Linked DNA regions of Homo sapiens: all the other regions are linked to region 1. Evidence: fine-mapped expression QTL. A gene starts in region 1. Each other region holds a variant in brackets. All regions are shown on one strand. Distances are between the middles of the regions.

Region 1 (2,764 bases):
TAGTTTTTGCTATAAACCATGACATTGTAAAAATATTCATTGTAAAGAAAAACTCATCAGGAATTAGTATCATTTCTTCTATGTATATCTATCTATTGTAGGTGCAATTTAACCTAATATTCATCTCCTGTCTAAAAGACTATGTGACCAAGGTTACAAATGTCTACTGATATTTTTAGAGACTAGATATATAGCCCAGCTTTTGTTAAGGCATTTTCTTGAAGTCAGTCAGTCAAAAACTGCCTTGTATTTTAAGTATGCCAATTATAATTTACATGTAGTATTTTATAATAAAATACTTTATAAATACAAATCACAACTCACTACGATTACTTAAAATATAGAGAAAAAAATTCAGCTGTTTCTCTCTGGTCCCTTCCAAGGAAGAAAAAAGAAGAGAGAAATAAACTTCTAAATAAGTTTACAACAGCATGGCTCAATCTCAGTTTAACCTGGTAAATTCAAATTTGTCTTGCTTTGCAAGGTATACATCCAGACCAGTCTCAATTTGTCATCCAAATATATATCTCAGTAGTAATTTATTTTTGTTTAAGGGATGAGTGTGAGATTTTCTTATCTTGATTTTTTAGCTTAATAATTCTTTCCTACAAGACCAAACCATGCTTGTCATCAGTCATGTGGTGTCATTTACTATACATTAAAAACGGACAGAGTCGACAGAAAGAACAATCGTTTTCTGGAAGCCCCAGCCTGATGTAGGTTAAAAGCTCTGCTGGGGTTTGGTTTTATAATCCCCAGGCGGGGATGGCAGGGATACTAATAACGCACTCAACAAGATCACCTACTATTTCAACTACTTTCTCCTCCTATTACATACCTGATTCACAAAAATAAGCAGACAATGCATCATGTAATCTCCCCTCACCCATTAGCCATTGCAGTGTGGTACAATCTCCAGCACGTAATAAAAACCTGAGCATGCAAGAAACAGCAAAATCACTGCTATCCCTGGGAGCTGCTCGGATATTTACAATGCAGTCGTCCCCACCCCATCCCCCAAACTGGCCGGCCAGGCAGCACAGAAGCAGACGGATGCTCACCTGGGCCCCGGCTGCTACTCTCCATTCACCTGCGGGGCCTTCAGTCCGCTCCTGGAGGGGCTTGACTCCCGCAGCCTGCCGCCCGCCTCACGGTGACAGCCCGCCCGGGCGCTGACCATCCCGGCCCGGCTCTGTTTACAAGCGGCTTCTCGCGGTCCCACTCTGAAATGCTTCCGCCGGCGGCCCGGGCAGCCAGAGCCGGACACACAAGGTTCCAGGCCGCGAGGACGAGTCTTTCCTGCCCGAGGGACCCGGCAGCTAGGCAAGGCCTGACCGCACCCGCCAGGCCTCCTTATTTCTTTGCTTTCTTATATACAGTTCCTCTTGTACACATTGTGAAAGCAATGGCGTGTGTCGTGGAGTCTCCTCACTGCTCCACCCAACGCCAAAATGGGTGTTTGCGATTGGAAAATGTCACTTAGAACATGTCAGGATCGGGCTGGTTTTTAGCAGCTCCCTTGTCTAAGGGAATTAATTACTCAAATAAGTTCTTTCCAAAAGTGGGACTATTCTGGAGATTGCTTCTCATTTCCGGTTTTGGGGCTGCAGTGAAAATCCGTTTTCACTGTCCTTTCCTACGCAGGTTGAAAAGGGGTGGTTTTGAGGTGAGGTCTTCACCCCCACTTGCGGATTCCCAGCAAAATAGGGTGTGCGTGTGTGTGCACGCGGGCAGGACTGCCTGGTAAGACCGCCCACATCCCACCTGCAGTGACTGTGGTCGCTTTGCAGGGATATGCTGGTCTGATTGGACAGACCTTCCTTGCAGTTTCCTGTCTGTTTTCCATCATAGCACACTTCTTAGCCATTTTCTCACTTTATAAGTACACACTTATTTATCAGTTTTATTGGTTTTCCCACGCTCACCCATCTCACCTATAAACTCCCTGAGGGCAGGCACTATTTCAGTTTCACTCACCACCATCTAGTAGGCACCTAGCACAGGCCCAATGTATATATATCTGAATAAATGAATGAACAAAGGAATGATAAAAAAAAAAAAAGGTCAAAGGGGTCAGGGATGAAACAGAAATCTAAAACTCTGATTCCTCTTCCCACCTTCCCACCCTCCAGAAGATTAATAAGCAAATCTTTAAGCTTTGAGTTAAGAAAAAATTTCCTTTGGTTGATATTCAAAGTTTAAATAAGCTTTCTTTAAACCCTGCAATTTGAGGTACTTTTTTTTCTGTTTTGCTAGAGACAGGATCTCACTCTGTGCCCCGGCCAGAGTGCAGTCGCACGATCATAGCTCACTGCAGCCCTGAACTCCTGGGTTCAAGGGATCCCCCCAACTCAGCCTCCTGAGTAGCTAGGACTACAGGCACGCATCACCACAACGTGGCTAACTTCTTTTTTCTTTCTTTCTCTTTTTTTTTTTTTTGTAAAGGCAAGGTCTCCCTGTGTTGCCCAGGATGATCCTGAACTCCTGGCCTCAGGCAATCCTTCTTCCTTGCCTTCCAAAGTGCTGGGATTACAGGTGTGAGCCACCTCACCTGGCCAGAGGTACATTTTTTGTTTTGTTTTGTTTTAATTACCAAAAGAGAATATTTGCAGTATTCTCTTTTGCCTCAGGACTTTGTACATGTGATTCCCTCTGATGAGAGTTCTCACTCCTGGCCCATCCTCTTACTTAGGCTGGCTAATTTCTCTTTGCTCTTTAAGAAGCAGGTAACAGGTGCTTGGTCTCTCAAGTCACTTGCTTGGTC
Region 2 (2,764 bases), 76 kb after region 1:
AGAATGTTCTCTTCATAACCTTCCCTGTCCCTATTTGTCAGGGTTTCATTTTCTTATACTTGGTCACTCTAGTTTGATTCTGACAACTTTCTTTTTCTTTTCTTTTTTTTTTTTTTTTTTTGAGACTGAGTTTTGCTCTTGTCACCCAGGTTGGAGTGCAATAGTGTGATCTCGGCTCACTGCAACCTCTGCCTCCTGGGTTCAAGTGATTCTCCTGTCTCAGCCTCCCGAGTGGCCGGGACTACAGGCATGCACCACCAGGCCCGGCTACATTTTTTTTTGTATTTTTAGTAGAGACGGGGTTTCACCATGTTGGCCAGGCTGGTCTTAAACTCCTGACCTCCCGTGATTCACCCGCCTCAGCCTCCCAAAGTACTGAGACTACAGGTGTGAGCCACTGCATCCGGCTGATTCTGACAACTTTCACAAGGCAGAAAGACAAACATCACTTAAGGGAAATATTCGAAGCAACCTGGAGGTGCATAGCTTGGGTGTTATTTTAATTTTTTTTCTTTGCGGTTTTTTTGCGTTTTTTTTTTTTTTTTTTTTTTTTTTTTTTGGAGAGATGGGGTTTCGCCATGTTGTCCAGGTTGGTCTGGAACTCCTGGGCTCAAGTGATCTGGCTGTCTTGTCCTCCCAAAGTGCTAGGATTACAGGTGTGAGACACTGTGCCCAGCCAGGTGTTATTTTTAGAGTCAAGTTGGTGGCTTTCAAATGCAGAAATGGGCAGTAGAGGAATAACACTGCACACTCTCCATTATCTCTGAATACAATCAGATTGATTTGAGATAGCTTAAGATGAGGGGGATGAGGATAGCTTTATAGGTCTGTAGACACTTAGAGAGAGAAGGAAGAACAGTGGAAGTCAGCCAAACAATGTTTGGAATAGGTATCCATTTTTTTTTTAAATAAAAGAGATTAAGATTTCTGTAAAAGAAAAACTATTCATGAATAATGGTAAGAAAAAAATGTACAGGATATTAAACAGTTCGTTGAGAGAAACCACAGAGATTGAGCTTGAAGATGAAGTGGAGGAAATGTTTGAACACGGATGTGGGGTCTGTTTTATTCATGAACTCAATGTTTCATAAATTACATGTGGGCCTGTCAGACGTTGAGAAATGGAGGAAGAAGACATAGAGATCTTTTATTTTTTTGTTTATTTATTTTTTTGAGATGGAGTCTCACTCTGTCACCCAGGCTGGAGTGCAGTGGAACAATCTCGGCTCACTGCAGCCTCACTTCCCAGTTCAAGCAATTTTCCTGCCTCAGCCTCCAAAGTAGCTGAGACTACAGGCACGAGTCACCATGCCTGGTTAATTTTTTGTATTTTTAGTAGAGACGGGGTTTCGCTATGTTGGTCAGGCTGGTCTAGAACTCCTGACCTCAGGTGATCCTCCCGCCTTGGCGTCCCAAAATGCTGGGATTACAGGTGTGAGCCACTTCTCCCAGCCGACACAGAGCTCTTTTAAAAAGCACAGTGTAGATGCTGGATTGTCCATTCAAAAAGGCCACACCCACTGGGGCTAACTCAAGACCAATTGGCA[T/A]GCCTCTCTTCACTATCTCTTAGGAAATGCTTAGGATGTGTCACAAAGATCTCAAACAATTTATATTTGCTTAATAACCACTGGCTGAATTATAAGATTAACCTGCATATATACTGCATAGCTGAGCATATTTTAAAAGTGCAGAATAATCTCTATTTGTGAGGCTTTTAAATCATACTTGCCTTCCTTCTGGCCAGCACAGGGTGGAGCTCTTATCCAGACTAAATAAAAGCATTTTCTAAATGGAAGGGATGGAAGCTACTTTAAACAGTTGGCACTTAGGAATTTTTATCCATTTAGTCTCTGTGTGGCACAGAAGGCTTCCAACTCTTTGCTTAAAAAAAGAAAAAGAAATAGTAGAGTCACAAATCAAAAATAAAGGAAGATGTGAGAAGCAGAGTACAAAGAAAAAGGAGATTCACGAATCATGAATGGAAACACTTGTTAATAATAAATTCCACTGATGGTGAATTTAAGCACAGCTGAGTTGTGTAGACCTCATAGTCTCATGATCTTGTTCCTAAGCAAGGTAAATGTCTCCCGGGTGTTTAGATGGTTCAGTGGCCTAATCAACAGAAAGTTCAGTTTGGAATGGGTCATAGCCCCCTCGTTACCATCACTGGGTCTCTGTGGCTCTCTCTGCTGGGGCCATCTGTCCACGCCACGTTCACTGCCTGACTCTGTCACCAGGCCAGGTCCTGGCCCAGGAAAGAATATTTGCAATCCATAGTTGCTCTGCCTGTGGATGGTGGTTAGTTTGATTTGGAAAGAAGCAATAAGTCCCATCTTGGTCCTGGATCCAAATCTTGTTTTCCAATAAAGCTTTATCATTATTAAATATTAGGGATATTTGGATATCCAAAATAAATAAGTAAAATAGTATACCTAAGTAAAATGTAAATCAGAGGAGAGAAATTATTTGAAAATTGTGTAATTATTTTCAGAATTAAGGTCTCGGCCAAGGTGGGCAGATAACGAGGTCAGGAGTTCGAGACCAGCAGCCTGGCCAACATAGTGAAACCTCGTCTCTACTAAAAATACAAAAAATTAGCCAGGCGTGCTGGCAGGTGCCTGTAGTCCCAGCTACTTGGGAGGCTGAGGCAGGAGAATCGCTTGAACCCAGGAGGCGGAGATTGCGGTGAGCCGAGGTCGCACCACTTTACTCCAGCCTGGGCAACAAGAGTGAAACTCCGTCTCAAAAAAAAAAAAAAAAAAGA
Region 3 (2,764 bases), 200 kb before region 1:
GCATAGTCCCTTTTCAGGAGTCTGAGGGATACCACTTGTGTTGCAAACCACAGATCCCAAGTATTAGACGTATTCCCTTCTTGGTGGAGGCCTACTCTAGAAGAATCAAAAACCGATGACCCTCTCAGCGAATCCGATGTTAAAGCTCCTAACTAGGTGACCCTTTAGCACTACAGACGTAAAAATGACTCTAATGCACTCCCTAGAAAAGGCAGTGAAGCAAAGGGGGCTGCTGAGAGTTTACATGGTTTTCATATAAAGAGGCTTTTAACTTTGGAAAAAGCGGGCCTGGAAAGAACACTACCCCCATTCCAGTTGACGGCTTTTTAAGTACTTTGTGGCCTTCCTGCCGCGGTGCAAAATGAGGTCTATTTTAGGAACTGGCTTCTTTACTGCGGGGTTAGATGCCAACATTTCACCAGGGTTGGACGATCTCACACATGAGTTTCTGGCACTTTTAGGAGGGATTTCCTCAAGTGATACACTAGGGAATGAGCCTTTCAGCAAAAAGCGGTTCCCCGGAGTCAGTTGCCAGCTCCAGGAGATTAATTGGCCATTTTTTCATATGTTTTATGTGCAAGATATTTAATATGGGATGAAAAATGGAACACGAGGAAAAGCAGGTATTAGTTTGGTCTGAAAGAGGTGGTAATCCACAGATTTGCTTTTGTTTCGACAGTTTCTAAGCAGTGGAACAATTACCTAACAGTGCACCAAGTAATTTGTTAAAGTTGAAAACAGTAAGGGCGTTCATGTGCGCCAAGGTATTCTGGGCTGAAAACAGCAATTTTGAATTTTCATGGCAGACCCAACTCCTAAGCTGGCTCCACTCTGTCCTATCAGATTTTGGTGGTGGTGGCAGAGAATGTCATAGGCCTGTGGCTGGCACCGACCAAGCTGTCAGGGTGGTACGAAAAGGAGAGGAAACAGGAGTGCTGGACATGGACCCAGCTCTGGGTAGCTGATGGTGATAACACATCGATTTTTTGTTTCCCTTTTGAAAATAAGCAGAAAATGATGTGGGTGGAAAGTCCTCCTTAGGAGTTCACAGGGACTGCTCGTATTTAGCAGGGCCCTCTAAATGGGGACTGGTGAAAACAAAGATGTTTTGAACGGGGATCCAGAATTTCGCCCTTGACTCTCGGCAGGTATGACCCTGGGTGCCTGTGAGCTAGGAGAGGAAATTCTGTATGCAGGGCAAACATGTTACAAGGGGAGGAGATGGCACTGCACTTCAGGTCTCCAAATGCAGTGTGCTAGGAATGGCCTCGCTGACAGTTGGAATCACGGATACATTAATTACAGCGAAGGCAAAAGTAAGCTACAGTGACAGGGAGCTGGGGGCGGAGGGAGAAGGCACTTTGCCATGGGAGCACATCTGTTTTATAATAAGCAGGTCTATAATTCTCTTGTGAAAGATCATGTTCTGCTATCTTCTCTGAGGCTGGAAAATATAAATACTGTATTTTACCAAGAGGAGGAGGAAAGGAGATGATCAAATTTGTTTGCCTGTTGCCAAGTGTTTGAGATTTTCCACCCTTTTTCTTTTGTGTGCAACATTCTCTTTAACTAGAGTGGGGGAAAAGTCAACCTGCTTTTCTAAGGGTAAAAGGCACCGTCAGGCGTCTCATGAATAGGGCCCTGGCCTTTTAACAAGTTTTCAAGCCTTGGTTGCGGCTACTGTATAGTCAGAAAATAAATGCATGTATGGTGTTGAGCTATTAAGGTGAAATGTGTGG[C/T]CTGGGGCCAAAGGAACTGGTGTGGGTTGAGAGGTAAAATGCTTACATCTAACTGCACAAAAGTCAGTCTGAAATGTCACATCTCTAGATGGATGGAAGTATCATGAGTTGGGGTCTTGGGGAAGCGGCGTGTGGGGGAAAGGAGCAATGGGGTTGAATGTACCAAGTATGTTGTGAGCCACTGATCCTAATAGCAGCAAAACTACTAAACCATGAAGACATAGAAGGCATCTGCTCAGCGCGAAAGCTACAGAATCTTCTCATAAAGTCTACTGAGAACTGTTCCATTATAAACATATTTTTCTTGCTCTAGGGAGAGTTAAGGGGAAGGAATGGGAGCTGTCAGGGTCCCAGGGCTGTCCTACCTGCCGTTTTGGTCACAGTGACTGCCACGTGCTCTTCCAAGGGCACTGCAGCTGGAGAACACTACCTGCCAAATAGCAAAGCAGATCTCTTTCTTACTCCTATTATTTATTTTAGCACTCTTTGTTTTACTTCAAGGTGGCAATTATATATGTGTGTGTATATATATATATTTATTTAAATAATATTAGATCTAATTCATTAATTATACTTGTAAGTTTGTATTTTCTTAATAGTCCAAAGTTGGTATTTTGAAGTTCCACATTACTCTGATTTTTTAAACAAAAAAATGAGAAAGCAAGAATGGTCACATTGACAAAGGTCGAAATGAAAGTGCAGGAAGAACAACGAGAAATAAAGCACTTAAAATGAATAGGTAGGAACTGCCTCCACAGGATTCTGAGAAAAGAAACTAAAACGACCCTCTTTGGGAATATACTTACTAGATAGCCTTATCTACCAGTCTACACGACGATGTCTTTAACAACCACCCCAGGACATTTCCTCCGGCCAGCATCATGAAAAAAATCATAAATATCAACCATGGGCACCCGTTGAAAACTGTTAAGAAAGCCATGTGTACAGCCTGGAAAACACGGTGGAGCGTCACATCATTAGGTGGGTGATGGGATTAGTACCGAAAAACAGACCGACAACACGCA

Alleles and levels. Positions count from the first base shown, and alleles are read on the strand shown. Sizes are in standard deviations (SD) of each study's normalised expression. Not every link is listed here.
In carriers of allele T in region 2, the expression in skeletal muscle of the gene that starts at base 1,200 in region 1 tends to be higher than with A alone (small effect, 0.15 SD a copy in GTEx).

What was found. PIP is the estimated chance that this variant, and not a neighbour inherited with it, causes the effect. A credible set is the group of variants that fine-mapping cannot tell apart.
Region 2: its variant is the best candidate, but not a certain one, in a credible set for the expression of PLEKHM3 in skeletal muscle (GTEx, PIP 0.74).
Region 3: its variant is the best candidate, but not a certain one, in a credible set for the expression of PLEKHM3 in blood mononuclear cells (TOPMed, PIP 0.90).

What each region holds. Positions count from the first base shown.
Region 1 is chr2:208,024,328-208,027,091 of GRCh38, forward strand. It overlaps PLEKHM3 (pleckstrin homology domain containing M3), which reads right to left and starts at 1,200. Exons shown (of 8, transcript NM_001080475.3): 1 at 1,062-1,200.
Region 2 is chr2:208,100,395-208,103,158 of GRCh38, forward strand. No RefSeq gene overlaps it. Among named protein-coding and RNA genes, the nearest start is that of CRYGD, 23 kb to the right of the region's middle. The variant T/A (reference allele first, on the strand shown) is at 1,548.
Region 3 is chr2:207,824,829-207,827,592 of GRCh38, forward strand. It overlaps PLEKHM3 (pleckstrin homology domain containing M3), which reads right to left. Exons shown (of 8, transcript NM_001080475.3): 8 at 1-2,764. Among named protein-coding and RNA genes, the nearest start is that of FZD5, 56 kb to the left of the region's middle. The variant C/T (reference allele first, on the strand shown) is at 1,740.